Homo sapiens: one gene and its partners. The protein of the gene in region 1 interacts with the protein of each later gene in a biochemical or structural test. Each region holds a gene or a part of one and is shown on either strand. Other genes may lie near its edges. The genes, in order: UBE4B, PGAM5, PPP3CA and CNTN2.

What was found.
Region 2: of the proteins of UBE4B (region 1) and PGAM5, one has a biochemical effect on the other in vitro, tested with the Homo sapiens proteins (one study listed by BioGRID).
Region 3: of the proteins of UBE4B (region 1) and PPP3CA, one has a biochemical effect on the other in vitro, tested with the Homo sapiens proteins (one study listed by BioGRID).
Region 4: of the proteins of UBE4B (region 1) and CNTN2, one has a biochemical effect on the other in vitro, tested with the Homo sapiens proteins (one study listed by BioGRID).

Annotation. Positions count from the first base shown.
Region 1 is NC_000001.11:10,098,954-10,105,977, forward strand, and holds part of UBE4B (ubiquitin conjugation factor E4 B), read left to right. Parts: intron 1-2,154; coding exon 2,155-2,242; exon of another isoform or gene 2,243-2,253; coding exon of another isoform or gene 2,254-2,271; intron 2,272-3,994; coding exon 3,995-4,139; intron 4,140-6,562; coding exon 6,563-6,791; intron 6,792-7,024. UniProt on the Homo sapiens protein: Ubiquitin-protein ligase that probably functions as an E3 ligase in conjunction with specific E1 and E2 ligases. May also function as an E4 ligase mediating the assembly of polyubiquitin chains on substrates ubiquitinated by another E3 ubiquitin ligase.
Region 2 is NC_000012.12:132,713,836-132,720,859, reverse strand, and holds part of PGAM5 (serine/threonine-protein phosphatase PGAM5, mitochondrial), read right to left. Parts: intron 6,003-7,024; coding exon 5,824-6,002; intron 3,422-5,823; coding exon 3,296-3,421; intron 3,151-3,295; coding exon 3,062-3,150; intron 2,874-3,061; coding exon 2,740-2,873; intron 2,099-2,739; coding exon of another isoform or gene 2,050-2,098; exon of another isoform or gene 1,693-2,049; intron 183-1,692; coding exon 32-182; 3' UTR 1-31. UniProt on the Homo sapiens protein: Mitochondrial serine/threonine phosphatase that dephosphorylates various substrates and thus plays a role in different biological processes including cellular senescence or mitophagy. Modulates cellular senescence by regulating mitochondrial dynamics.
Region 3 is NC_000004.12:101,337,503-101,344,526, reverse strand, and holds part of PPP3CA (protein phosphatase 3 catalytic subunit alpha), read left to right. Parts: intron 1-7,024. UniProt on the Homo sapiens protein: Calcium-dependent, calmodulin-stimulated protein phosphatase which plays an essential role in the transduction of intracellular Ca(2+)-mediated signals. Many of the substrates contain a PxIxIT motif and/or a LxVP motif.
Region 4 is NC_000001.11:205,038,778-205,046,218, forward strand, and holds the start of CNTN2 (contactin-2 precursor), read left to right. Parts: upstream 1-4,434; 5' UTR 4,435-4,617; intron 4,618-7,441. UniProt on the Homo sapiens protein: In conjunction with another transmembrane protein, CNTNAP2, contributes to the organization of axonal domains at nodes of Ranvier by maintaining voltage-gated potassium channels at the juxtaparanodal region. May be involved in cell adhesion.

The DNA of each region.
Region 1 (7,024 bases):
TTGGCTGGGCACAGTGGCTCACACCTGTAATCCCAGCACTTTTGGGAGGCCGAAGCAGACAGATCACTTGAGGTCAGGAGTTCGAGACAAGCCTAGCCAACATGGTAAAACCCTGTTTCCACTAAAAATACAAAAAAAATTAGCCGGGCATGGTGGTGCGTGCCTGTAATCCCAGTTATTTGGGAGGCTGAGGCAGGAGAATTGCTTGAACCTGGGAGGCAGGGGTTGCAGTGAGCCAAGATTGCACCACTGCACTACAGCCTGGGTGACAGAGCAAGACTCTGTCTAAAAAAGAAAAAATTATTTACATGTAAACTTTCTATGTATAAATAAATAAGTTGCTTATAAGAAGTGTATATTTAAAATCAGTTGCATTCCTGTCTGCCAGCAACAAAAAGTTAGAAAACGTAATTTTTAAAAAGGTGCCATTCACAATTTCATTAAAAAGTATTAACATATGGTACCTAGGAATAAATTTAGCAAAAGAAGTATAAAATTTTTATAGAGAAAATTACTAAAGCTTATTGATAGACCTTAAAGAAGATCTTAATACTTGGAGAGTAATGAAAACTCAGTAATATATTACTTCTCCCCAAGTTGATCTCTAAGAGTGAAAAAAATTTTGGTCAAAATCCCGGGAGGGTTTTTAAGGAATTCCTCAGGCTGATTCCTAAGTATGTGTAGAAGAGGAAAGAGCCAAGGATAGCAAAACCTCTTAAAGGAGAAGAATAAAGTGGAGACATTGACCTAGCAGATATCAAGATTTGTGAAGTTTTAGTAATTAAGACAAAGTGGTATTGGCCAGGGACAGACAAATTGTCTAACAGAACAGTAATGAGTCTCCAGAAATAGACCCACTCGTTAATGAAAATTGGACACGTGACATAGGAGCTTTCATATTAATGTAAAAAGGATGATCTTTCCAGTAAATGGTGCTAGGGCAATTGTTCAATCGGGGATAAATGATATGTACTTAACCAGTTTTTATAATAAGACTTCAGTTGAGTTTTTTATTTTCTTAATTAAATTTTTTATTTTTATTTTTTATTTTTTTGAGATGGAGTCTCGCTCTGTCGCCCAGGCTGGAGTGCAGTGGCGCAGTCTTGGCTCACTGCGAGCTCTGCCTCCCGGGTTCAGGCCATTCTCCCGCCTCGGCCTCCTGAGTAGCTGGGCCTACAGGTGCCCACCACCATGCCCGGCTAATTTTTTGTATTTTTTAGTAGAGACGGGTTTCACCATGTTAGCCAGGATGGTCTCGATTTCCTGACCTTGTGATCCGCCCACCTCGGCCTCCCAAAGTGCTGGGATTACAGGTGTGAGCCATCGTGCCTGGCCTATTTTCTCAATTAAATTTTTAAAAATGTTTATTTAATTTTTTTTAGAGCCAGAGTCTTGCTATGCTGCCCAGGCTGGGATACAGTGGTTATTCACAGGCACAGTAATAGTGCATACAGCCTCAAACTTCTGGGCTAAAGTGATCCTCCAGCTTCAGCCTCCTAGGTAGCTCGGACCATAGGCGCATGCCAATATACCTGGCCTGGTTGAATTTTATGTCATTTTAAAATACTATATATAGGTAACCTACTTTAATGATATACTTTTATTTATTTATTTATTTGAGACGGAGTTTCGCTCTTGTTGCCCAGGCTGGAGTGCAATGGTGCGATCTCGGCTTACCGCAACCTCTGTGTCCTGAGTTCAAGTGATTCTGCTGCATCAGCCTGCCGAGTAGCTGGGATTACAGGCATGTGCCACCACGCCTGACTAATTTTATATTTTTAGTAGAGATGGGGTTTCTCCATGTTGGTCAGGCTGATCTCGAACTCCTGACCTCAGGTGATCCACCTGCCTTGGCCTCCCAAAGTGCTGGGATTACAGGCGTGAGCCACTGCACTCGGCCAATGATATACTTTTAAAAAGTAAGCCCAAGAAAATGACAACTTAGGAAAAATATTTCCAACATGTATAAGAGACAAATTGTTTAGATCCTAATTTATGAAGAACTCTTAAAAATTAATAAGAAAAAAGATGGACCATTATCATTTTCCTTTCCTGATTAACTGATATTTTAAAACATTTTCTCACCCAGCAGCTACAGTGACATTGTGCGGATTTATAAAAGGTAAAAGGCTTGTTTGTCTTTTGTACTTTAAGCATGTCCCAGGTGGATGTGGATTCAGGAATTGAAAACATGGAGGTTGATGAAAATGATCGAAGAGAAAAGCGGAGCCTCAGTGATAAGGTTGGTAAGCGATGAAGCCCTTGGTACAGGTAATAGAAATAAACACATTTCATGTCTTGTATCTGTAGAGTCTGTTAGATTGGGGCCACCCGAAATCAGGAAGTCCTAGGCAGGTGATTATTTTTATTCTTTTGAGGAAAAATGAATAACCTAGATTACCCTTATTCATGAAAGTGTAACTCAGTCCTTTGATCTGATAATATCCATCTGTTTTTGGTTCAGGGCCATGATTTTATCAGTAAATTTAGGTTGTAATAGGAACTAATTTAGAGCAAATTAGAATTCTTTCTGTTGGTCTTTTGCTTTTTTTTTTTTTTTTTTTTTTTTTTTTGAGACAGAGTCTCGCTCTGTCGCCCAGGCTGGAGTGCAGTGGTGCGATCTCGGCTCACTGCAAGCTCCGCCTCCCAGGTTCACACCATTCTCCTGCCTCAGCTTCCCAAGTAGCTGGGACTACAGGCGCCCGCCACCACGCCCAGCTAATTTTTTGTATTTTTAGTAGAGATGGGTTTTCACCGTGTTAGCCAGGATGGTCTTGATCTATTGACCTTATGATCCACCTGCCTTGGCTTCCCAAAGTGTGGGATTACAGGCGTGAGCCACTGCGCCTGGCCTGGTCTTTTGCTTTTAAGCAAGTAGATCATCACATCTTTAGCAGTATTCTGAGGAAAATGACTGGGAATTGAAGCAAGAATATGTAGAATCTAGTCGCAAGTAGAAGGTTTTGGAAAACATGAAGCCTTTATATTTGAATATCACCTGAGCTTAGTGCTCTGCATTTAGGGTGTGTGTGTGTGTGTGTGTGTGTGTATTAATATAGATAATTACATCACTTTCTGTTTAGTAAATTATTAGGAATCCTTTAGCAACACATGTTAATGATTATTGGAAGTTGCACTGTAAACAAAAATAAAGACAAACAAAGGAAAAAATAAGAAGTTGCACTGTAGCCTCCTAGTGGTGCAGTGCTTTATTTTGTATAGTTCTTTAATGTTTACAAAATTCTTTTTTATATGCTGTTTTATCTGTGGTGGTATGTAATGAGAAATGTTACAATTTTGAAAAATTCCTGGAGGAAAATTGGTCATGCACCTGGAGTGTTAACCTGGTCCTATGGAATTCAGAAAAGTAAATAGATAGGATATGTACATCCTCTGTCACATATTTTTCCTTGGTGACTTTTGATAATGACTTTGCTCTTTTTTTTTTTTTTTTTTTTTTTTTTTTTTTTTTTTTGAGACAGGGCCTCACTCTGTTGCCCAGGCTGGAGTGCAATGGCGTGATCTTGGTTCACCACAACCTCCGCCTCCTGGGTTCAAGCGATTCTCCTGCCTCAGCCTCCCAAGTAGCTCCGAGTAGCCAGGCCCGCAACCGCGCCTGGCTAATTTTTGTATTTTTAGTAGAGACAGGGTTTCACCATGTTGGCCAGGCTGGTCTTGAGCTCCTGACCTCAGGTGATCCACTGGCCTCGGCCTTCCAGAATGCTGGGATTACAGGTGTGAGCCACCACGCCCGGCCATCTTTGCTCTTTTATGCTCCCCATAGATTGTATTGTAAGCTCATGAGACTTAGATGTTGTAACTTTGATGTTATAGGAATAGGCTTACTTTTCCCCTAATCAGTGGGTGAATGGTTTCATGCATTTTTAAAATATCATCACTAATAATGAATTAAATCAGAATAACGTATTCCTATTGAAACACCTAACTCATACCTCTTATTTGAAATTAACCTGCAAATCTTCTTCTTCACCAGGAGCCTTCCTCGGGCCCTGAAGTGTCTGAAGAGCAGGCCTTACAGCTGGTCTGTAAGATCTTCCGTGTCTCTTGGAAGGACCGGGACAGAGATGTCATCTTTCTTTCTTCTCTTTCTGCACAGTTTAAGCAGAACCCAAAAGAAGGTAGGAATCTAGCTCAGCAGTCTTACTGCAGAGTACTCGACAAGAAAATAAGATGTGAGATCTTTGCCCTCTGTTATCCACATTCACTCCATCTTGCTCTTGGGTTGTATTTTTGATGACAGGGATACTTCTTGATGAGGACACAATTGTTTAGCCACTTTCTTCCCTTTCCACTGATCTTATCGATAACTTATTTTTCATTTCCATGATTTCTATAATACTATGTAAATAGGTTAATGGTCTCCATTTTCTCAGGGTTGAAGTTTTTCTCTTTGTAGTAAGAAGGTGCTTAGAGCATTACCTCCTCTTTATTTATTTATTTATTTATTTATTTATTTATTTATTTATTTATTTATTTTGAGATGGAATCTCACCCTATCACCAGGCTGGAGTGCAGTGGCATGATCTCAGCTGACTGCAACTTCTGCCTCCCGAGTTCAAGTGATTCTTCTGCCTCGGCCACTGGAGTAGCTGGGACTACAGGCGTGCACCACCACGCCCAGCTAATTTTTGTAGTTTTTTTTGTTTGTTTTGTTTTTGTTTTTTTTTTTTTTTTTGAGACAGAGTCTTGCTCTGGCACCAGGCTGGAGTGCAGTGGCGCAGTCTTGGCTCACTGCAACTCCCACCTCCTGGGTTCAAGCAATTCTCCAGCCTCAGCCTCCCGAGTTGGGATTACAGGCATGCGCCACCACACCCAGCTAATTCTTGTATTTTTAGTAGAGACAGGGTTTCACCATGTTGGCCAGGACGGTCTCGATCTCCTGATCTCGTGATCCGCCCGCCTTGGCCTCCCAAAGTGCTGGGATTACAGGCATGAGCCACCGTGCCTGGCCTCATTTTTGTAGTTTTAGTAGAGACAGGATTTCACCATGTTGGCCAGGATGGTCTCGATCTCTTGACCTCGTGATCTGCCTGCCTCGGCCTCCCAAAGTGCTGGGATTACAGGCTTGAGCCACCGAGCCTGGCCTTACCTCCTCTTATGAAGTATAGATATAGTGGGTGGTCTCCAGGGATCCTGAGAGAAGTGTTCTGTATGAGCTATACCTGCTTTAAGTGCCTATGAAGCCATGTATAGACGGTGGAATTGGTCTATTTGGTTAAATTGCTTAGCAAGATAGAACATAATGACATTTTGCTGTGTTTCTGATATTCCACTTTAAGAGGCCAAGCTTGTAACAAAATAATAAAACTCTTAGCAAGATATCAGCATCATAGGGCACTATCCTTTTTCTTTACAGTAGTCATTTGGAACGCAGAAGAGGTATGGGAGGTGTGCTGGAGTGGTTTTTTTGGCCTATCACTGGAATGTAACTTCCCTCATGGTAGGGATTTTTGTCTGTTTTACTCATTGATGTATCCCTAGAAGGATATCTTGCACAAAATAGTCCCTCAATAGATAGATTTTAAATGGATGCGTGAATATCAAGGAGATCACCTTTCTCTTTTCTATGCTGCCTATCTTCTGAGGAGGGAAAAAAAAAGTCCTTTGTATTTCTGGAGGATAGATAAGACTATTTCTGATTTTACTTATTAACTCTGCTAATGGAGCAGACCATGTATTTGAAACTCTGCTACTTGTTATTCTTATTATAAATCTTAAGATTCTCTGTCTTACACATGTAAGTGGCAAATCTGTCTTACACATGTAAGTGGCAATTTTAAATAACCAAATCAGATAAAATTTCCATGAGTTAAAACTTTTGTTAAAACAAGTGTCTTACACATGTTAAGTGGCAACTCTGTCTTACACATGTAAGTGGCAATTTTAAATAACCAAATCAGATAAAATTTCCATGAGTTAAAACTTTTGTTTAGTGGTATTTAAAATGTATCTAAAGACCAACAGTAAATCAACTGGGAGCTGCAAAGAATAAGAAGGAAGCTAGAATGTAGCATTTGCTCCTGAAAGCCACATGGTGACTAGATGTTGGACCCTTCATAAAATCTTTTGAACCTTGGACTTAATAGTTTTATTACTATCTATAAAACATATCTAGACTAAGAAATATTAACCCAGTTGCATTTGTAGTATAATAAAGTAACCTCTATAGTTGGGAGTAGCTTCTTTTTACAATTAATATACATCAGCGGTAACTCTCAATGACTGTACCCCAACTTTCTTTTTAATAAACTTTTAATTTTGGAATAGTTTCAGTTAGTGCAGGGAGTTCCTATATATACTTTACCCAGTTTCCCCTGACGTTAATATCTTATATAACCATGGTACATTTGTCAAAACTAAGAAATTACTACTAACTAAACACAAGGCTTTATTTAGGTTTTCCACTAATATCCTTTTACCATTCCAGAATCTAATCCAGGATACTGCATCGAACCATTTGGGGTCAGCTGGCTTATTCAAGGGCTGTGTAACCTGTGTTCGAACTGTGTGTAACCTGTTCTTTGTTCTGCCTTTCCAACAGTATTCTCCGATTTTAAGGACTTGATTGGCCAGATTTTAATGGAAGTGCTAATGATGTCCACTCAGACCAGAGATGAAAACCCATTTGCCAGTCTGACAGCCACATCACAGCCAATTGCTGCAGCAGCACGGTCACCAGACAGAAATCTCTTGCTAAACACTGGCTCCAATCCAGGAACAAGCCCCATGTTCTGCAGCGTGGCTTCCTTTGGTGCCAGCTCTTTGTCTAGGTCAGTGTGGTTCTCTTTGCACATCTTACTGGTAGTAAAATAACTGTGAACTACGTAGGAGAAGGGAATGTTTGTTGACAGTGTTAATCAGTGTCATACAGGGTATGGCATATATCATATTTGGGGAGGTGGATTTAGTCATTGGAAGTGGAATTCTCTTTTCTAGATTATTATTTTTTGGCTCTCTATGGTTAAGATATTGCTAGATGAAATTTTAGAAGCAGTTGGCTGTG
Region 2 (7,024 bases), on another chromosome or scaffold:
GGAGGACAGAGGGAAGGAGAGGCCGGAGCCCTCAGGATCGAGTGATCTTGTCGGGAGGCATGAACCCCGTGTCCCCGAGGGTCCTGAGCGCAACTCGGCCGTTGGGTCGGATCACCAGGTGGGTGATGCTGCCATTATTGAGGGAGAGCCGGAGCCAGCCTTCAGGAGGAAACTGCAGTGCTCTGGGGAGAGAGAGAGAGAGAGAAAGAGCACGTTAGAGCCAGGGGGCTCTGTCCTTAAAACGGGCTGAGCTAGGCCGGGCATGGTGGCTCACACCTGTAATCCCAGCACTTTGGGAGGCCAGGCGGGTGGATCACAAGGTCAGGAGATCGAGACCATCCCAGCTAACACGGTGAAACCCCATCTCTACTAAAAATACAAAAAATTAGCTGGGCGTGATAGCAGGCACCTGTAGTCCCAGCTACTTGGGAGGCTGAGGCAGAAGAATGGCGTGAACCCGGGAGGCGGAGCTTGCAGTGAGCTGAGATCGCGCCACTGCACTCCAGCCTGGGTGACAGAGCGAGATTCTGTCTAAAAAAAAAAAAACGGGCTGGGCTAGAGCCAGGGGACTCTGTCCTTAAAAGAGGCTGGGCCAGGCTGTGCCAGGGGGCTCTGTTCTACAAACAGAGGCTGAGCCCCTCAGAAGTCTCAGAGCAGCCTCAGGGCCGGGGTACACATCAGCCGAGCCGCTCCTGTCTTCAGTCGGGGCTTCTCGGGGAAGATCTGGCTGGGATCGACGTGAATCGATGACTGGGATCGACATGAATGGAGCCATCACACTTGGGGACCTGCCCTCTTTAGGACAGGGGCCCAACCCCAACTCAAGATTTGCACAGATCAGAACAACGCTGACTTCTTACGAGGAAACACAGTTTAATTTCTGCTTTTCCCATATAAAAGCAGGGAGCAGCCAGTTAGTGCAACAGGTCCCTTTCTGGGAAAGCAAAGAACGGAGATGGGATCTACCCGCCGTGGCATCTTCATGCACTTCTTAGGCACAATTCGCATTTGCGGAAAAGCTCGGAGTTGCCTTCATCGCCTCTGAGCCACCCACCGCCCTGTCTCAGTGGGCCGCATGGCCACCCTCACGCTGCTTCCCGAGCCTCCTCAGGGCTGCCTGGCGGCACCGGCCGGAACAGCACAGCCATATTCTCGTGTCCAGGTGCACGTGCCTGGCCCTCACCACTGTGTGGACTCAGGTCGGCTCCACTCTCCCGCCCCGGTTATTTCTGTGCATTTTTAGCATTTGTGTCACCTCGGGGTGACTGTGTCATGGACACACAAGGTGGTGGTGGCAGCATAGAAGCCACCCATATGGCTCATTCACAAGCACAGACAGGAGGCAACGAACGACTCACAGCAAACAGGTACTCACTTAGCCTGAGGCCACACCACCCGGAGGCTCCAACCCCCAGAAAAGCTCTATCTGGTCTGGAGCCAAGCTTGAGAATCTCGGCCCGTACATCCTCGACTTTCTGGGAGCTGCTGCTCTTGACCATGGTGCTCCCAGCAGCCCCAGCCCTGGTGACAGGCCCAGGTGACAGACGGGCAGAGACCAGGGCCCAGCCTCACACGGCATCACTGACCAGTGCCGTCCTGTCCTCCCACCACAGGACTCGTCACACTCAAGAGGGCCCCCTCAGCTGCGGAGCCCACACACACATTTCCTAATGGATCCAGAGAAGAGGCAAATTTGTTTCAAATTTGCATTTAGTGAGATTTGGCCAACCCTTCTGACTGTTTCAGGCATGTAACCGTAGAGCTGGCCCTGCCCCCCAAGGGGCCCTCTAACGTGGCTGCAGCCCTGGAGCTCCTTAAAGAAGTGGCTGATTGCAGGGTGGTGGCAGGGAAAACGCAACCTGAACCCGGATCATTCTGTGGTGCTGAGAGTGGGGCACCAGAGCAGGTTGAGGGACAAGGGCCCCCCGAGGGAGCAGCCCGAGCAGCAACGTGACTCAGCTGTGGCCTCGACCCAGAGGGGAGCGGACACCCCGAGCCGTCACGCTGGCACACGGGTGGGAGCGCCCACAGATCAGCAAGTGAAAGAGGTCAGGACCCCAGAAGCACAAAATCCCCAGCGGACAACAGCGGCGGGATGCTGCCAGTGGGATCCAGCCGGAGGCAGAAGGTGGTTGGTCGAGTTTGAGGGGAAACAGGACGTTCAATTACAAAGGGAAAACAACCAGGGCAGTGCGGACGCCCAGCATGCACCGTACCCAGGACCCCCCACCCAGCACGCACCCCACCCAGGACACCCCCACCCAGCACGCACCCCACCCAGGACCCCCCACCCAGCACGCACCCCACCCAGGACACCCCCACCCAGCACGCACCCCACCCAGGACACCCCCACCCAGCACGCACCCCACCCAGGACACCCCCACCCAGCACGCACCCCACCCAGGACCCCCCACCCAGCACACACCCCACCCAGGACACCCCCACCCAGCACGCACCCCACTCAGGACCCCCCACCCAGCACGCACCCCACCCAGGACACCACAGGGGTCCCTCCCTGTCTGCACCACCCTTGCCCAAAACAGCCTTATGAGAAGCTCCAAGTAACACGCCACCTACCGCGTAACTGACTAGGACTCGCGGGAAGTGGACGCCCGGGGGCTGGTGAGGCCTGACTAGGGTGGCATCGGCAGTGGAGGAGGGTCTCGCTCGGCTTCTTCCTCATGCTTTTCTCTAAGTCTGAAATTATTTTAGACCACGCCCAGCCCAGCAGCTGCCTACCTGCACACGATGTAGCGGATGACGTTGGCGTGACAGATGAAGATCTCGTAACTGTCCTCCTCCTGCCTGGCATCTGCGCGGTGGATGTAGTTCCGGAAGGCGGCCTCGATCCGGGCTCCGTCTTCGTAATACTGCTGGGGGCAGAGTGAGGAGCCGTCAGTGCGGAAGTGCTCGGGCAGGGCGGGTGTCAGGAGGACAGACCCCATCGCCGCCCGGGGAAGCCCGTGGGACGGCCGGGCACGTGGTGGATGGTGAGCCCAGCAGGGCCGCTTTGCCCAGGGAAGGCGAGGGTGACACAGCTGCCCCCCGGGGAGGTTTTTACCACAGCTTCCGGCTTCCAATGAGACACGGGCGGGTCTGGCTCGATGGGGGCGCCTTCCCGCAGCAGATCTGTGCTGACTTTGCAGACGCCTGCAGAGAAGCACAGCGAAGCGCTGGGTGAGGCGGCCCCGCCGGCGGAGATGCTGTGACCTCCCGGTGGCCAGGAGCTCAGGCCGGGGCCCTGCCACGAGCCGCCCACTGCTGCAAGCATGGAGGCCCCGCGCGCAGCACTCACCTGGCAGGTGCCGGCTGATGATATCGGTGGTCTCTATGGCGCGCGTCATAGACGAATGGACGATTTTATTAAACTTCAACCCCAAGCTTGCCAGGCGGAGCCCAGTGAGTTCAGCCTGCTCCCGACCTGGAAGGTGAAAGGCACCTGAGTGCCGCACCTGCACCCCCTCCTCCACCCTCAAACACCCCCTCCTCCGCCCGCAAACACGCCCTCCTCCACCCTCAAACACCCCCTCCTCCGCCCGCAAACACCCCCTCCTCCGCCCGCAAACACGACCCCTGATCAGGCAGCAAGCTCAGCAAGCTCAGCCGATGGCTCCTGCCCGCCCGAGGCTTGGGCCAGAGGGGCCGGCACTCAACTGTCTTCACCCCCATACAGGAAAAAACATGCATCTGATTCCACCAATGGAGCAGCAAGCAAACCGGATGGTGGCTGGCGCTTGGTGGGGCCCAGGGGTGGTTTCTGGGTCCCCCCTTGTCACCCTCACTCAACTGTGTCCAAAACCTGAGCCTCACAGGCCCCCAACCACGCGCCATGGCGGAGGCCAACACAGCGGGACCTAAACACCCCAAGCTGCTATGTGGGGGCCGGACACCAGTGCAGATGCCTTTTCTCTTGTGAGCTTTTGCATCCAGGTGAAAACGCCTCAGGAAGGCCGAAGCCACTGGATGCAGCCACACCTGCATCTGTCACTCCACTTTCTTTGTGCACAAGCAGCCAGGACAGCTCTGGGGACTGGGGGGCGGCGTCTGTGGAGGACAGCCCTGCACATTTTTACTATCTGAACTTTTAGTATGTGCATGAACAGGCACTATCCCATTCGAAGAACTTTTCAAAATGTAAACTCTACCTTAGCCCACCCTGCATTTCCTTCTCTAGGCAGGCATTTCTTCTACAGATCCACCTGCACAGGGACACAAGGACAAGGTGGAAGGACCCTCCTGGACGCTGTCTATGCAGCATCTGCCAGTGGGGACAGGCGGGATCCTGTTGCTCAGTCCCGCCTGTTCAACAGGGCATTAAGAGGCAGAGGCCAGGCCGGGCGCGGTGGCTCACACCTGTCACCCTAGCACTTTGGGAGGCCAAGGCGGGCGGATTACGAGGTCAGGAGTTTGAGACCAGCCTGGCCAATATGGTGAAACCCCATCTCTACTAAAAATACAAAAAAAAAAAAAAATTAGGCTGGGTGTGGTGGCTCACGCCTGTAATCCCAGTACTTTGGGAGGCCGAGGCGGGTGGATCACAAGGTCAGGAGATAGAGACCATCCTGGCTAACACGGTGAAACCCCGTCTCTACTAAAAATACAAAAAAATAGCTGGGAGTGGCAGCGTGTGCCTGTAGTCCCAGCTACTTGGGAGCCTGAGGCAGGAGAATTGCTTGAACCCAGGAGGCAAAGGTTGCAGCGGGCCAAGATCACGTCACTGCACTCCAGCCTGGGTAACAGAGCAGGACTATGTCTCAAAACAAACAAACAAGCAGACGCCAGGCATCAGGCCTGTGAGTGCCACAGGCCGCAGAGAAGCGTCTTTGGCAGCAGGTCCAGGTGAGCAGCCGAGGGCACAAGCCACGCCGCTTTCCAAGGCATCAAGCAGGTATAAAATCACTGCTGGGATATGCACTGCATTTGGTCTCATGCAAACAAGATCTGTCCAACATTTGCTAAAAGTTAAGGGCTTTTTTTTTTTGAGACGGAGTCTCACTCTGTTACCTAGGCTAGAGTGCAGTGGTGCAATCTTGGCTCACTGCAACCTCCACCTCCCAGGGTCAAGCAATTCTCCTGTCTCAGCCTCCTTAGTAGCTGGGATTACAGGTGCCTGCCACTGCACCCGGCTAATTTTTGTACTTTTAGTAGTGACGAGGTTTCGCCCTGTTGGCCAGGCTGGTCTCGAACTCCTGACCTCAGGTGATCCACCTGCCTCGGCCTCCCAAAGTGTTGGGATTACAGGCGTGAGCCACCGTGCCTGGCCAAGGTAAGGACATTTTTTTTTTTTTTGAGACGGAGTCTCGCTCTGTCGCCCAGGCTGGAGTGCAGTGGTGCGATCTCAGCTCACTGCAAGCTCCGCCTCCAGGGTTCACACCATTCTCCTGCCTCAGCTTCCCGAGTAGCTGGGACTACAGGCGCCCACCACTGCACCTGGCTAATTTTTGTACTTTTAGTAGAGACAGGGTTTTGCCGGGTTGGCCAGGCTGGTCTCGAATTCCTGACCTCAGGTAATCCACCTGCCTCGGCCTCCCAAAGTGCTGGGATTACAGGCGTGAGCCACCGCGCCCGGCCAAGGTAAGGACATTTTGAAAAGCTTGTCTTCTGTCCAAGTTCAGCTGACAGTTACTGGTAATAATGTGTGATTCAGGGGTGATGGTCTCGGACATGGGCCCCAGGAGGCCCAGTGCCCCAAGCACTTTCAAGAAAGCTGACCAAGGGGGTCGGCGGAGGACCTGCACCCAGTCACATAACCAAGGCGCCAGCAGATATGCACCTGGCCACATAACCACGAGGGTCCACAGAGGATCTGAACCCACCACATACCCAGCGGGGTCAGAGTGCGGTCCTTCTCCAGGGAGCCATCCACGTGGTACTGGGAATGCCTGATGAGGAAGATGTGCCGCGTGGCCTTGGCTTTGTAGTGGTCCAGCTTGGACGCCAGCTCTTCTTCCCCAGATTCCACGTTCCTCTTCCGCACGTTGATCAGAGACAGTGGTTCTCGCCTGATGTTGAAATACAAGATATGTCCTTGAGACCTCTGTTCCCAAGTTTGAGTTTTTCTGACAAGATGTTATTTCCAAATTGTCAGACTATTTGGGAAGAGCATGGAGAGAAGACAAGGCCCTTGGCACAGCCCTGGGGAGGCCTCTCTGAGCATACCGCCACTCTCCCTCCCACAAAGCTAGTGCCAGGTCTGTTCTGAGTGATGCGCTGGAGAGCAAAACAGACAAGCAAAGCCCTGTGCATCTTCTTCTCTAATGAGAGGCAGACAGTGAACAGCAGGAGACAGACTACCCCAAACGCAACTGTGGTTACGGAGAACGCCAGGCTAGGAAAGAGGACAGCGGCTATCGGGGCGCAGGCGGAAAGTGTCCACGGGGCCAAGATGGGCCTCCCTGACCATGATGCTTCAGCAGAGCCTAGAACTGCAATGCCCAACAGCAGCCACTAGCTATGAGGATGTTTCAATTCAAAATTTAAGCAAAATTAAATAAAATTAAAACATCATGTCCTCAGTCATACTAAGCACATTTTAGACCCTCAGGCCGGGTGCAGTGGCTCACACGTGTAATCCCAGCATTTGGGAGGCTGAGGTGGCCAGATCAACTGAGGTCAAGAGTTCGACACTAGCCTGGCCAACATGGTGAAATTGCACCTCTACTCAAAATACAAAAATTAGCCGGGCTTGGTGGCACACGCCTGTGATCCCAGCTACTTGGGAGGCTGAGGCAGGAGAATCGCTTGAACCTGGGAGGCGGAGGTTGCAGAGAGCCGAGATCGTGCCACTGCACTCCAGTCTGGGCGACAGAGTGAGACTCCGCCTCAGAAAATAAATAAATAAACAAACACTCAGTGAGGAAGAAAACATTCCCATTATGAAGGTCTGTTCCAGAGCTGCTGGAATCTGAAAAAGAGTGGATCCCAGCACTTTGGGAGGCCGAGGTGGGCAGATCACTGGAGCCCAGGAGTCCAAGACTAGCCTGGGCAACACAGGGGGACCCCGTCTCTACAAAAACATTAAAAA
Region 3 (7,024 bases), on another chromosome or scaffold:
TGCATTTGTTTTGATAGAGATCCTGATGTGAGATGTGAAATGTGAAATTTTGTTTATAGAAGTTTTGTTGATGAATCCTGATTTTAAGGTGGATACACTGTTATTGTTTATCCTGTTTTCTTGTAGAATATTATTGGCATGAAAGGCATTATACAAGGTTGGATTCAACCTTTTGTCATACATAAGATTTTTATTATTAGTTATTTGAGATAATCTATTTTGATTATTAGCTTTCTGTGAAATAATATTTCCCCTTGAGTATGTATACACGTACTGAATGAATGGAAAGTACGCGTATGCTGGATGTGAAACATATTAACAAGTGATTTAATTTGCAAAAATTAGATAATATGGAGTTTAGAAACCATTATTTACTTGAAATTTTGTTAGAACTTCATCTCAATGGCTATTTAACTCATTCTTTAATACAGAAAAGAAATTATCTTTGAGGAAGTATTTGTGCTCCATAAGTTTTCTCTTTTTTACGAAGTATGTGTAGTATTATTTACTATATATACATACAAAAATAAATATTCAGATTGTTATTACCATGGCATGCCATGGCATTTGCTTACAGTTATATTTATTAGTGTCATCTGGCTTTTGTTGTATAAGAAATTGCTATTTACAAATAAAGATGTGCTTGTGGTTTGTAGTAATATGATGTGACTGTTTTCTTAATTGTACTTTTAGAATGCAGCTTTAGAGACGTAGGTTGAGTCTGTCTCAACTATGTTATTTTTGAGGTTTATAGAATCTGCTAGCATGTATTCAGAGACCCTGATCGGTTTTCTAAACCTTAAAAATGAAAGAGAATGATGGCAGTGGAGATGAAAAGTATTTGTTTAGATTATCCCAGGAGAGAAAGTTACTTCAGTTAGCAAAACTAGTGCTGTATCATTTTGACTCTTCTTGGATTAAAACAATGGAAAGTAGAAAAATTCAGAGAAAACATCTTGGTAATGACCTTTGCTGGAAATCAAAATAATATGGTCCGTTTATTGCTTTACATTATATTTTTAAAGATACATACAGCAAACCGAGGGCAATAAATAGAAGAATAACTGTCTTCCTCCCCTTGACCCCCGTCCTGATTTTTCTCTTAGTGATACTCTACAGGCCTTGTCTCAAACTTTGGCTTTTCTTCATTTCTCTCTGTTCCTGCCTAGAATGCTTTGTCTGGCCCTAGCATTCCCTATTGGTCATGGAACTTTGCTATGTGATAGTTAAAAATACTTAGAGGAAATTAAACCCTATGTGATAATGAGTATTTGGCTTTGTTAAATCTCTTAACCTACCTTCCCTCTGTTCCCATCTCCAAGTATTTTGTGATGGGACTTCTACCTTAACTCAAACCGATGGTAATGGTAGAAATTTTAGAAACTATGGGAGGCTGTTGAGGGATAAATTTCTGAGAAGAGTTTTGTGGAATCTCTCAGAAACTATAGATAATGCGTTGTTGTGCTTTGTGTAAGGTTGCTTTTGGCCATAGAGAATGAGCTGTTTTTCAGGTGTATTGCCAGCTTACGTACTTCATGTAGACAGAGTACACATAGGAGAATTCTGAAAGATGCTAAGATCATAGAAGCAAGAAGATGCTAGTTAAGTATTATTAAGTAAATAAGGATTCCAGCCACTAGTATTTCTAGCTGGGTGAGACTGATAATACTACTTAAAAAGAAAACAAATATGTCACATTCGTAGTAACTGTCGTGTTTAGACCTTGATGCAACAGAGTAGTAAATAATGTCATTTATTTGTGGTGTTCCAGGAAGAGCTTGTGAATTTATTTTACTGACATTTTGTTACCATCAGTTGAGTTTCATGTATCTGGTTTTCAATTTGAGTATAGTGAAACTTTATTAATTCAATATCATGAATTTAAATTTATTGTGAAAAAACACCAGTGTTTGTTGGCTGAAGTTTACATCAGCATTGGATGTGAAGAAAGGGGTCCGATAACCAAAAAGTATAAACAACATAGTTCCAGCATTGTTAATATACCAAGAGAACAAATTCTTTTCAATACTTAGTGAACAGTATGCAAATTCATCCTGTTCGTTACGAGTTAGGTTGGTCTATTTATTAACATTTCCTTTTGGGACTATTATAAAGTGAATATAACACAAGTGCATTGTTGTAAAAACATTCAGTAAATTTAATGATTAATGCAACAATTGAGACTGGGATTCAGGGGAATTCCAGTGATTCTAAAATGCCATCAATTAGAATAATCAACATTTTGAAGATAATAGTTTTTCTGAGAAGTGTGGGATAGAACCCTTATTTTAAATGGACAGTTTATCTTAAGACATCCAGTTAAAATAGGAAAAAATTAACATCTAGAATCTAATTAATGAGGTTTACTCTAAGATTTGTTTAAAAATATGCCTTTTAAAATCTATTTGTCTCTTTGTTTTATTTGTAATTTTAGCGAGATGAAATATAATTTTGATAGACCATTCATTTATAACTTTTGTAATTGGCCTCTCATGCTTTTCCTTATCTTTTTTTGTGTCAGCTATGTGTAAATTTGAAACTAATTATGACACCAAATAAAGAATCCATTTAGGGTGACCTCATTGGAAAACAGCATTTTTGCAGATACTCACTCTCCTTTTAGCAAATATGGTTAAATTACCATTTTGAATACTTCTAGAACTATGAAGAATGGTGGTGATTCATGATATAGAATTTTGATAATTACTAAAAATCATTTTGTCAATTTTTTTCCAGCAACTTTCTGATGTAGCAGTCTCTTGATATACAAGAGGGATATGGTGAGACCTTGAACTTCAGCTTTCTGTAATTCCACTGGTATATGTTATAACTTCACAGGCTAACTTTCTCTATACATAAAAGGGGAGTAATTGTATCCACTGTCAACTTGTGAGGACCGAAGGATAATCAAATGGGAAATGGGGAGTGTGTGGTTAACACTTTGTCCACTGCCTGGTAATGGCGATTCAGTCACTGCTAACACAGAATTAGAAATGACACGTGTTATGTATTTTCTGGTCACCTGAGAATAGTCAGAACCATTAGCATTGAAAGCCATGAGTGCCTTGGGTCAAGAGTAGCTTATGATGACATTTATTTTTATAGTTAAAGAAGTGGAGACAGAATAGATAGAATGGTTACAGGTAAGTGTAAACACATTATTTTCTTTATTAAAGAGGCTTTTCTTGCTTGAAAACATTTTTGAAAATTGCCACTGGCCAGGTGTGGTGGCTCACACCTATAATCCTAGCACTTTGGGATGCTGAGGTGGAAGCTTGGGCAACATAGCAAGACCATATCTCTTAAAAAAAAAAAAAAGAAAAAGAAAAAAAGAAAATGGCCACTTCTTTTGGTATATTTAAGATATCTTCACATTTCATTTCGCATTTTGTTTTACTAAATAATTAACTATGTAAAATAGTTTGATTAGGAGAGGAAGCTTTTTATATTTCTGTTTTTAGCAGACATCAAATTCTGGTGATAAATATTATAATTTAGTCTGACCTTGGCCTGAGGTTTATAAAGAAATACTGTTAAACATTGCTTTCTGTTCAGGTAAATATATACACAGAAATAGAATAGTATACTCTCCTGCAAAAGAATGTTATTTACTTTCATTTTGAAGGATGTTGTCTTAAGCCTGTTTTTCTGAACTCCACTTAATGACCCACACTGATGCTCTGGTTTGACAAACAAAATCTTCAGATTTGATGATTTTGTTAATTTCTAGAGCAGGCTCAGGTGAAAATATCAGCCAGTGATTCTGAGGTGTTGCATTCCTATTTTTAAAGCAGTCATTAGGTAGGACTGATGTAGGCAATGAAATAGGATTTCAGTTTGTAAATTAAGTCTTTAGTACTCTTGACATTTTCAGCATTTTAAAATCATTTTATTTTACAATAATTCCATCTTTTATATGAATCCATCAATTATATTTCATATGAGAAGTGAAATAACAATTGTGTATTCCTCCATGGTTAGGGGTTCTGAATAATGGCTTAAATCAGATGGGTTATCAACTTTATGACCTAGCCCAGTTGCTGGTATCTCAAATCCGTTTTAACAAATATGCACTCGGGTAGTGGAAGCTTTAGATATTAAAAAAATAAAAGCCCTCACTGACAAAGTGGCAATAAATTATTAAAATGCTATGTTTTTGGAATTCAGGTAGATTCTTTTTGAGACCATCATAGAGAGGAATAGAACTTTGCTGTCCTTTTTGTTTTCCTTATCCATGCTTTTGTCTCACAGCAAAATATACTATGACTCTATTTTAAAAAATGGTCTACCTGTCTGTGAACTTCTGTCTCTTGCAACTGGAAATTTTGCTTGTGTCTGTCTGCAAAAGAGGGAAACAAATAGATATCAGGGATTTATAAAAGCTATCTCAATATTATGACATACTAGTTTACAATGTTTGTCAATTTCAGGTACTTTTGACAACTGTGAAACCGGAAGAATGATGGTTGATGTTCAAAGAGAGAGTTTTATTTATATGGAGCTAAATTAAAAAAATTTTCATCAGCTCTAAGATTCTTAGACTTAGAGTCTTTCTGTGGTGATTTTATTGTCCCAGTTTTCCTTTCTTTGGGGAAGAATTAGTAGTAGTTTTTATTTAAAATGTCCAGTTCTTTCTATGTAATATCAGAATGTTTTGGAAATTCTAGTATGTCAGTGTCTAAACTATGTGTCTTGGTTGCTGCATATACTTGGAAGTTGCATAAAATTGTTAATATTTGTATTCAGAGTTTTAGTTTGGAAAAAATGGTCATTGTCTTATTGGTCCCTAGCTCAATGCCTTGCTTATTAAATGCACTGAATAAATTCTTTTGAATGAGATGGATATTGTAAAATTCTCATGTGCCTCCTGAAGCCTTCTAAATTGTTTTTATTTTGAGTGTATTATATTAAGTTCCATTTGTAACTGGTTCTGTATGGTGACTGGCGAATTGGAGTGCTTCTTTCTCCAGCCCAATCAGGGCATGGAGTATGAGAAGGAGGCATTAATAAGGTTACACAATTAGAATGAGAGCTGTTCTGTTCGGTCACTTGAACTCACTTTGTCCCTGCTGAATGTAAAAGGCTAAGTTCTATTCAATTTAATTTATTTGCTTGAACCTGACAGCTGTCTTTCAGTTTTTATTGTATTCCCCTTTAGGCTGGTCAATTTCTGACAAATGAGAAAAAATATGTTAATCACTGAGTGTTTGATTATTGGATGATTTGTGTATTTTAGTTATTGTCTAGATTTGGACTTGAAGATAAAATGACCTGGTAAATTTCATGAAAAAGAACAAATTGGAAAAAACCTCTTTCCCTGTTTACATCTCAATATATCATTTCCTATAATGCTTCTGTAATCCAGAAATGCTGCCTTCTCCAACATGACCTCCTTCCCTTCTCTGGCCCCCAAAATGTCATTGGATGCCATCCAGTGGAAAGATACATGGGCTATGAAAAGTTAAGAAAAAGGTGGCACTAACGCTGCTGTCTCCTTAGATTCTCACAAGTGGGCTTTGAGCCATCCGTTGACATTTGTTTTTAAAACATCTTGTAAGTTATGCTGTTTTATCAAGTTAAATTAAAAGCAAGATATATTCTTAAAAAGATGGAACCTGAGTCAGGAATTCAAGTTTGTTTTATTTTTTGTTTGCTTTTTACAAAGGAATTTGATTTTAAAAAATGATAAATCTGGCATTGTTGGTTCATGTATATTTAATGCTATTAAAGTTACACACATTCCTGTTCTGCTGGGCCTGATTATTGGGATAACAAATGTTCTCCTGATCATTCAGTTCTCTTCTTTCGAGCTTCAGTTCAGAAGTTACCTCCTTTGAGACCTGCATCTCCTGACACCTTCACTTAGAATAAAGGAATTGAGCCTCTTCCTTCTCACAGAGGACACCTTGATAAGAGCATGTTGCTGTGATGACTTGTTTCCTTGTCTGCCTCTCCTCCCCAGGAGGTGGAAAGTCCTAGAGACAGAAGTTCTATCTACTTTTGTGTCTTTAGCTCTAGCACAGGGCCTGCTGTAGAATAGGCATTTGATACATAGTTGTTACAGGAATGAAATAACAAAGGATAAGATGGATTTAAATTTCTAAATTATGGGGTTCCTTTATGTTTTGAAATTTTGTCAATCTTAAATCGTGATCAGTACACAAATGTCTGATGAGTCTTGACTTGTAAGCTCCAGTCTTTGTAGAAGTGTGTTTTCCTGTGAGTTTTTGAAGTGCTGTATTTTATTAACTGGCATTATATGGATTTTGCTCGGTAGCCAGCATGCAGAAGCATAACTGGCAGAAGTGGCCTTCCCATAGGGAGTGCTTGACTTTTAATGGATTATTGTCACAAGGTGTATAGGTTGATTTCCTCAAAGGTGAGTGATGGTTTCTTTCTCAGGAAGACAGGTGATGATACTAAATTGAGGGGAGAGCCATTTGACAAGCATATGGGAGGCCCATATTAGTCTTCACAATGTGCAAATTCAAATGAATAAAAATGTATAAGATTAGGAATTAGAACAGAGATTAAAACATACTGTACACCCCGATAGGTGATAACTTACTGTGTATATACCAATAAAAAATCTTCAGGCCCATCACGAGTACAGGCTGCTCATGAGTCACCTCTCCTGATGGCATGTCTGCATGGTGAGTGTTTTTAGAAAAGCTCAGTACTGGACTCCACACCAACAGAGTGGCAGTATAGTGAGGCACTTGCTCTTAGTCCCATCCTTACAGAAGACCGCTAAAGCTGCGCTACCCCAGATGTGGTTGTATGACTTCTGGTTAAAGAAAGCCAGCTGGGCCTTTCCAAGCTCCATTTTATTTTTGTTCTGAATGAATATTTCCAGTCTCTCACATGGGCCGGGATATACTTTGTCTCACTAACACAGAAATACTTTCATTTCAAAGAGTTGAAGACTAAGGAAACTATAGTTTCCTACATAAAATCTCACTGTTAGCTTCTGTTGATTTGCATTCAGCAACCAGGAGGGAATCTCTGTTGTCCTCGCCTCTGG
Region 4 (7,441 bases), about 190 Mb from region 1:
CATTAGCATCATCTATTATAAGCCTGAAAAAGGAGCTGCAAGAGCCCTGGGTTGAAATGGCAAAGAGAATAATTAGGCCCCTCCAGGCCACAGACCCCTCTGGGCCCTCACATGAAATTAGGAAGGCAAATGCAGACAGGGCATTGAGATCTTCCTTCCAGCACCCCTGCTAGGTCAACTTGGCTTCTCCAGGCATTACACAAATCATGGCCTTCCCAGGCCCCACATCTTGGCTCCTGCCACACCACATGCCCCCATGCCAGAAACACATTCCCCACCTCCTCTCTGTCCATCCAGGCTCAATTCAAGATGCACCCACCCACCCCCACTGAAAGCTTCACCCACATCCTACCTCCCTCTCTCCTCATCCTCTGAATGGTTACTATAGCTACTCTCCTTCATTCATTCACCCAGTCAACAAATATTTATTGAGTCTCCACCATGCACCAGGCACTGTGCTAAACAGGAGGGTGGGGGACTGGGAGAATACGGACTGATGAGATAATCCCTACCTTTTGGACTGCATAGCTGAGGGAATGGCCATCAGTATTTGATATGGCACTTTGCAATTCAAAGTGCTTTTAAAAACCATTATGTTTAATTCACATATCCTCACTACCATCCTAGATAGGAGTAGGATCATTCCTATTTTACTGGTGAAGAAATGGATTATCTGGGCGATTAAGTGTCATTCTGTTACTTGCCCAGAGTCATCCAGGTAGGAGTGACAGAGCTGGGACAGAGTCCAGTTCTCTTGACTACAAATCCAGAGCCACCCCAACCACTTGCAGCCCTTACTGCTCTGCCTCATATCCTTGTTTTACAGATGAGGGAGGCTAAATCCCAAAAGGGAAATACTGACATTTATTGAGCACCTGCTGTGCTAGCTACTTCACGTGTAACTCAACACTCACATCAACTCAGTGAGGTATGTGTCTTCATCCCCATATTCTGGGTGAAGAGGTATGTGGCTTGCCCATGGCCTCACATCTCCTCAGTAGCAGGACTGGGTGTCAAACGGGTCTGTCTGCAGAGCTTTTCCTTATGGCCATATCAGTTTTCCCCAGAGCTGTGGATGGACAGTCCTGTTACCACTGTCACACTGCTTCCAAAAAGGTCACTGGCACTTTGAAGACCGCATCCCCTGGCTCTTGGATCCCTACATTCCAGGCAGAGGAGCTGCTCCATAAATACATGGCCTCCTGGGAAAAGGGTCTGGGCAAAGATGCTGGTGGCGGGAGAGGCCAGGAAAGGAGAGGTGAGGCGGGGGAGTGGTGAGGAAAGAGACAGCAAAGCTGCAGCATCCTGGGGCCATGGCAGGGTCTCATCTCCTCCCCACTTGTCCCCAGGGATGGGGCCTAGAGGTCCCTTCTTGATCGGTTAGAGACCCACTGGATTCCATTGCTATCAATCTTGTGTGGCTACAGTAGGAAGAAGCAGATGGTCTGGGCAGGGTTGGGTGGCCCTCAAAATGCTTTCTGATCCCCACCCACCACCACCAAGGGAGCACCACATGTTTGCGGACAAATTTATAAGCCATTTGACTAGCCACCTGATTATCTTCACTGGCCCTTTCTTGCCCTGTTTGAAAGTCTGTGGGGACTCAACTTTGAGATGTGGAGTCCCAGCTCTGGACAACATGGAGTCATATTGATCAGCCACAGAAAGGAGAGGTGGCCCTTATGGTCAGCTGCACTGAAGATTGTGGGCTCTGGATGTCACCAAAGAAGAAGAAACTGTTCTGCCCCCTATTTTGCCCACCTCAAAAGAACAGACAGTAGGTAGCTGGAGTCCATGGCACGGTGGCTAAGCCAGGATGCTGGAGGCCGATCCCAGGCCTCACTCTGTCATCTAGGCTGGAGTGCAGTGGCACGATCACAGCTCACTGCAGGCTTAACCTCCCAGGCTCAGGTGATCTTTCTACCTCAGCCTCCTAGGTAGCTGGGACTACAGGTGTGCACTGCCACACTGGCTAATTTTTGTGTGTTTTTTGTTGAGACGGGGTTTCGCCACGTTGCCCAGGGTTCCACTTGTTTACTATTTCTTTTGAGCAAGTTCCTTACTCTTACTGAGCAACATCTGAAAAGTGAGGATAATAACAACATGGACCTCTTGCGCAAGTAATTCAGGTAAAGCATTTAGCACAGCTCCCGGCATGTGGGAGGCATTCAAAACAGATATTATTTCTGTTATTATCAAGCTAATGGGCCCCACAAGCAAAACTCAGCCTGCACCCCCAAATGCCCACCCCACTCTCTCCTCAGGAACAGGAGCATCTCAGAGACTGGGAGTGCAGATCCCCCTAATCTCCCCAAACTCATTCATACTAGACTTCACTGAGAGCTTCAGACAAGTGAGAAGATGAGACTTTGGGAACTGTCTCCCCATCCAAGTCTAGGCTTGGCAAATGTTCTTGTTTTCACTTATTGTGTCTGCCAGAGTCCACATGGAGCATGCTGGTTGCATTGAGATCTGAGAGTCTTTAAGACCCAAGTCACCTGTGCTAACGACCCTCCCCAGAGACCCAGCTCCCACCACAGGGCAGCAGCTGTCCTAAAATAGAGTCACAAAGACAGCTGTCTCCGTCTAAAGCAATCCTTGCAAGCATTTCCAGACTGTTGGTTCCTGGGCCAGCCTATTTCCTGGCCCGTCAGCCCCCTGCAGCAGACATAGCATCCTTTTCTTGGCAAGGACTTGTTCCTGCCGTTTTCTGCTAGGAGAGAACTTGCAGAGCCTCTCTTTGGAGCCCAGGCTGACTTGAATGGTGCCAAAGAGCAAGGTTCACCTCAGGAGCTCAGAGCCAATGTGCCAGCCCTCAGACATACAGATAGGCAAGGACAGTGTGGGCAGGGGAAGGAAGGGAAAGATATCCTGGCAAGGGGTTGATGTGTCTGTCTATATAACAGCATTCAACATTATTTAAGAAACATCATTAGCAAAATCCAAGTCCTCCCCATCAGGAACAAAGAAGACTATCTCTCAAGTTGGGCAAGCCCTTTGGAGGGGCTCAGAAGGAAAGGAGGGGAGCGCATGTGGGACCTGGGCAGACATTCCAGCCTTGGAGGCTGAGCAGCAGAACCTCCCCGACTCCTTCTCCTTTTCCAGACCCTCTCATTCTGGCCCAGGTCCCCAGGACCTCCTCCACTCAGGGAGACATGGAGCCATGATCCAGGCTTGACAGGTATAGCCATTTAAAACTGGGAGGCTGGCCTGGCCCTGCCAGCTGTTGCAGCATCTGGACTGCTCACCGGTCTTGCCTGTGCAAGCTGGACAGCAGGCAGATCAGAGGGGGGTGAGACAACAGTGACAGCCTGACAGGGCCGACTGGTGCCGCAGATGGCTGGTCCCTCCGCCTCCGGGCCACAGCCTTCCTGGGCACTCCCCCACGTGACCGGAGCAGGGCAGGAGAAAGGCATCGCTGACAAGGGTGAGCACTTAGAATCTCAGAGCTGGCAGGACTGTGTCCATCTTTAATCCCTTCAGGTACCAGCGAGGCTCAGAGAGGGCAGGGCACCTAGCCAAGCACACACAGCCAGTCGGTTGTGGAGCCCAGAGTATGCTTCAGACACCCAGACCCCTAATCCAGGGAGCTTTTCATGACATCACACTGCTGGTTGCTTAAAAATGGGATTGGATCCAAACGTACTGATGCGTAAAAGTGTCCAAGATCAGTTACACAGTTAAAAGTCTTTGGCCAATCCTACTGTTTTATGTAATCACATTTGTGTGAAATAACCCTACTAACCCATGTAATTGTATACACGAAAATAATAAACCTGGGGGCATGTACTTAGATTTATTAAGAGTAGTGGTTGAGGGACTTTCACTATGTATTTTTAAATGTCCTCTAATATTTAGATATTTTGACAAAAAGCTCAAACTACTTTTGAACAAGGGAAACAATAAAGAGGAACATGGGGTGGACCGGGCAACAGAGACAGCCCCTCCCTGCCACTTGCCCCACACAGCAAGCTGGGATTTCTGATTTGGATCTCTTCCTCGGATAGGGGATTTCTGGGGAAACCAGGAGTTTTGGCTCCATGGGTCTCCAGGGTTTGAGGAGTAAGAGCCACTTTCTTTTCCCTCTTCACCCCGCCCCTCTCCTGCCCCTTCAGCCCTGGGCAGGGGGACTAGAAGTGGGGCTGGGCAGGATCGGGAGGGCAGGCGGGCCAGACAGCGCCCCGCGGCCTGTCCATGAGCGGCCCATGCATTATGGAAGACGCGCGCTGGGCTCGCTCCCTGGTCCTTAAATGACAGCAAATGAGGTAAAGCCAGGAGGGTGGGGACGGAAGTGGGGTGGGAGGGGGGCAGAAGGAAGCCATCTCCAGGGCCCCCGAGCGTTGGCTGAGGACCAGAGCCAGCCAGTGAGCGGAGCCTGGGAGAGGGAGGAGCACATCTTGATGCAGAGATGCTGCAGTGGCTCCGGGCGCGCTCACACACACGCGCCCTCACCCGCCACCGCCGCCGCGGCCGCCGCCGCACCCGGACAGCGAGCGGCTGAGGCCGCCAGGGCCCAAAGGACAGCGGCCCAGACAGGGGCTGGCGGCCCGGCCGGCCCCGGCTCACCGACTCGGGCAGCATCCACCTGCCCCAGCCAACACCCTTCTCTCGCCCCAGGTAGGTGCCAACCGCTTTTGTCTCCTCCAACCCAGGGACTTCCCTGCGTGCTGTTATGGGCCGGGGCTCCCGGCTCAGTTCCTGTAAATATCCCCCTTGTAACTTGGGAGGGAACAGGGACAGGAACACTGGCAGGCTGGGGCCGTTCTGACTTCTCCCCTCAGCCCCAGGGTGGGTGCTGGGGCTCCCCTCCGCCCTGTCTACGTGGGCGGCATCCCGCAGGGCTCTCTCAGGCCGAGCCTGGCCGAAAAGCTGGACCCCAGGAGTGTGTCCAGGAATTCCAGTTGGCCAGCGGGCAGTGGCAGCTGCCTGTGGAGAGGGCAGTTTCTCCTGGGCCGGCCCTGGGCACCCGGTCCAGGACAGGACCAGTCCATACAGCCAGGCCCTGGGCCCTGGCCTGCCCCAGAAGTCCCTGCATGGAATTGAGCCGGAGTCCCCAGTTTTGAGGTCACCCAGGGTCTACCTCTGCAGGGTGACCTCTTTGCAAAGTCTTGCTTCAGCTGGATGGAGAGGGGGGCTGTGGAAGAGAGAGGGGAGAGTGGAGCACAAGTTTGGGCAAGGGCCTGTCCAGGAACTGGGACTCGGGGAGGAGAGTCCTGAGGCCAGTCACATCCCAAAGGGCGAGAGGCTGGGGCTACCGGGCTGAAATTCCTTTCCTTCCCTTCCCCCTCCCAACCTTAGCTTCTCCTCAAATCCCTCCCCCCCATCCTCACTGGTGGGAGGGAAGAATTTGCACAAAGTTTGGCTTTCCAGTAAGGAAAGGGGCTGGGGCCAGAATGGTATGGGGAAGGGAAGGGGCAGAGCTGGGGAGTTCTGGAAAGAGAGGGCAATCCTTCTGCCCAGCACCGTGGGGCTTACATAATGGGCTGGAGGTGGGGGGCAGCCCCAGCCAGTGAGTGTCCAGAGCTGAATCCTGTCACCTTCTCCAAGAGGGTCTCTCAGGTCTGGGAAGCAGCGGGGCATGGAGAAGGCAGTGCCTATGGAAGGGGAGAATCCTGCTGCTACTTGGGGATGGAGACGGGCACCCTCTAGCCCCAGACCCCTGGGGGTTGAGCCTGTGTCCTGGGGGGGGGGGTCCAGTGAGGCCAGGAGGGAGTGGGGTTGTGCATGCCATGGCCCCAGCCCTGGAGAAAGGTGGGTTTCAGCATCTTTTCCCTCTGCTCAGAAGGAGCTGGGAGGAGGAACAGCCCAAGAAACCCAGTGCACAGGTGATGTTCTGGTCTCGTCTGGGCAACAGTTTCGGCCTCCTCTCCCAACCGTCTGGCCAAAGACGCCTCAGCTCACTTAGCCTCCGAGTCTCTCTACCTCCTGGTCCCACTCAGAGGGGCCGGATGAGCCACTGGAGATCGAGTGCAGCAAAAGGTGGGCCACCTGTGGGAGAGGCTGCTGTGATCGCACCTGGACAGGGAGATGGCCTGGAGGTCACAACAGGTGCCCTCACTCCTGGCCTTGGGAGAAGGGAGCTCTCCCCTTAAAGACAGCAGCATCCAAGCCCCTCCCCAGGGTGCCCACCAGTTAACCCCTTTCTAGCCAAGCTGCAGAACCATGGACAGGGCTTTTGCCACAAGGTCAGAGTCCTTCCTAATCTCCCGTGGAAGTCCTCAGCGAATAAGAGGGAGGCAGGAGGTGAGACAGACAGGAAAGGGCCCCTGACCTGATGATGTCAAAGTCACCCAAGGTCCACCTGCCTCACAGGTGCAGAGACCACTGTGCTCACACCATGAGCGGTGAGGGAAGCAGAGGCACACTCCTTATGCAGATGAGTGCCTCAGACTCCAGGAGTCTGCTCTCATTCCCGGCTCTTTCTCTCTTACTCTCCTCCCTTCCTCTACTCCTTCTTTCCTCGCACTCCCTTCTCTCATCGCGTGTACTCCACCGGCTTCAGCCCTCAGCCTCCCGCCGCCACCATTTCCCCTGCCAGATTTCACTCCTTATGCAACTCCATTCCAGCACCTTCTCTGCCAGCAGTTGTTCAAATAGAGACACATGTGGGATGGGCCTCCGAGGAATTGTGCTTAACGGGGTGATTGCACATCTCGTCTCTGGCTGACCAAACTTACTCCTTAGGAGCATGTACATAGACAGGTGTACCCCAAGGCATCCTTTCTGCCTCTAAAGTCACCAGGGAAGCAACGCATTTGGGGTGGTTTGGAGGATGCATGGTGCCCTCTTCAGAAACCTCCTTGAGCCAAACGTTGGTGAGAAAGCGTATTTCAAAGACAATCTCTAAGCCTGAGTGTGGGTGGTATTTGTATTTTTGGAGGGATTCCTAGGGCAGAACCAGGGGGTTGGAGAAGAGGTGATTGATATGCAGGGGAGGAAGAACCAGAGCAAAGAATATGCCAGGGAAGCCAGAGGGACTTAAGTTAGACTGCAGGAGACACTTCCTGGCTAGAAGAGTGAGCCATGAGGAGGTGGGGCAGTCTCCTTTCAGATGACTCTAAGGATGGTGTGGAGAACTGGGGTCTGGTCCAAGGTTAGAGAGTCCTGCCTAGAGGCAAAGGTTGGGCTGGCTGACCCTGTAAATTTCTTCCAACTTCTAGTAATCCTCTTTCAAATGGTAAAAGGTGGATGTGACTCAGGAATCCATAAGAAGGCAGACATCCTTTTCATCCCCTCATGCATGCTGGCCACCCCCTCATCCTTCAGGACTACAACCCCAATCTAAACAAACCACCCAGAGGCTGTTGCTAACCTGGAACATTTATGGGAGTTTCTGTGGGCTCCGTATCCTGACGGTAACCATCCTAGAGTAAGTCCTTTCTTAGTTTGATGATTCCTTGCTACAAGATTAGCCCATGTTTCTTTGTTTACCAAAGAGAAT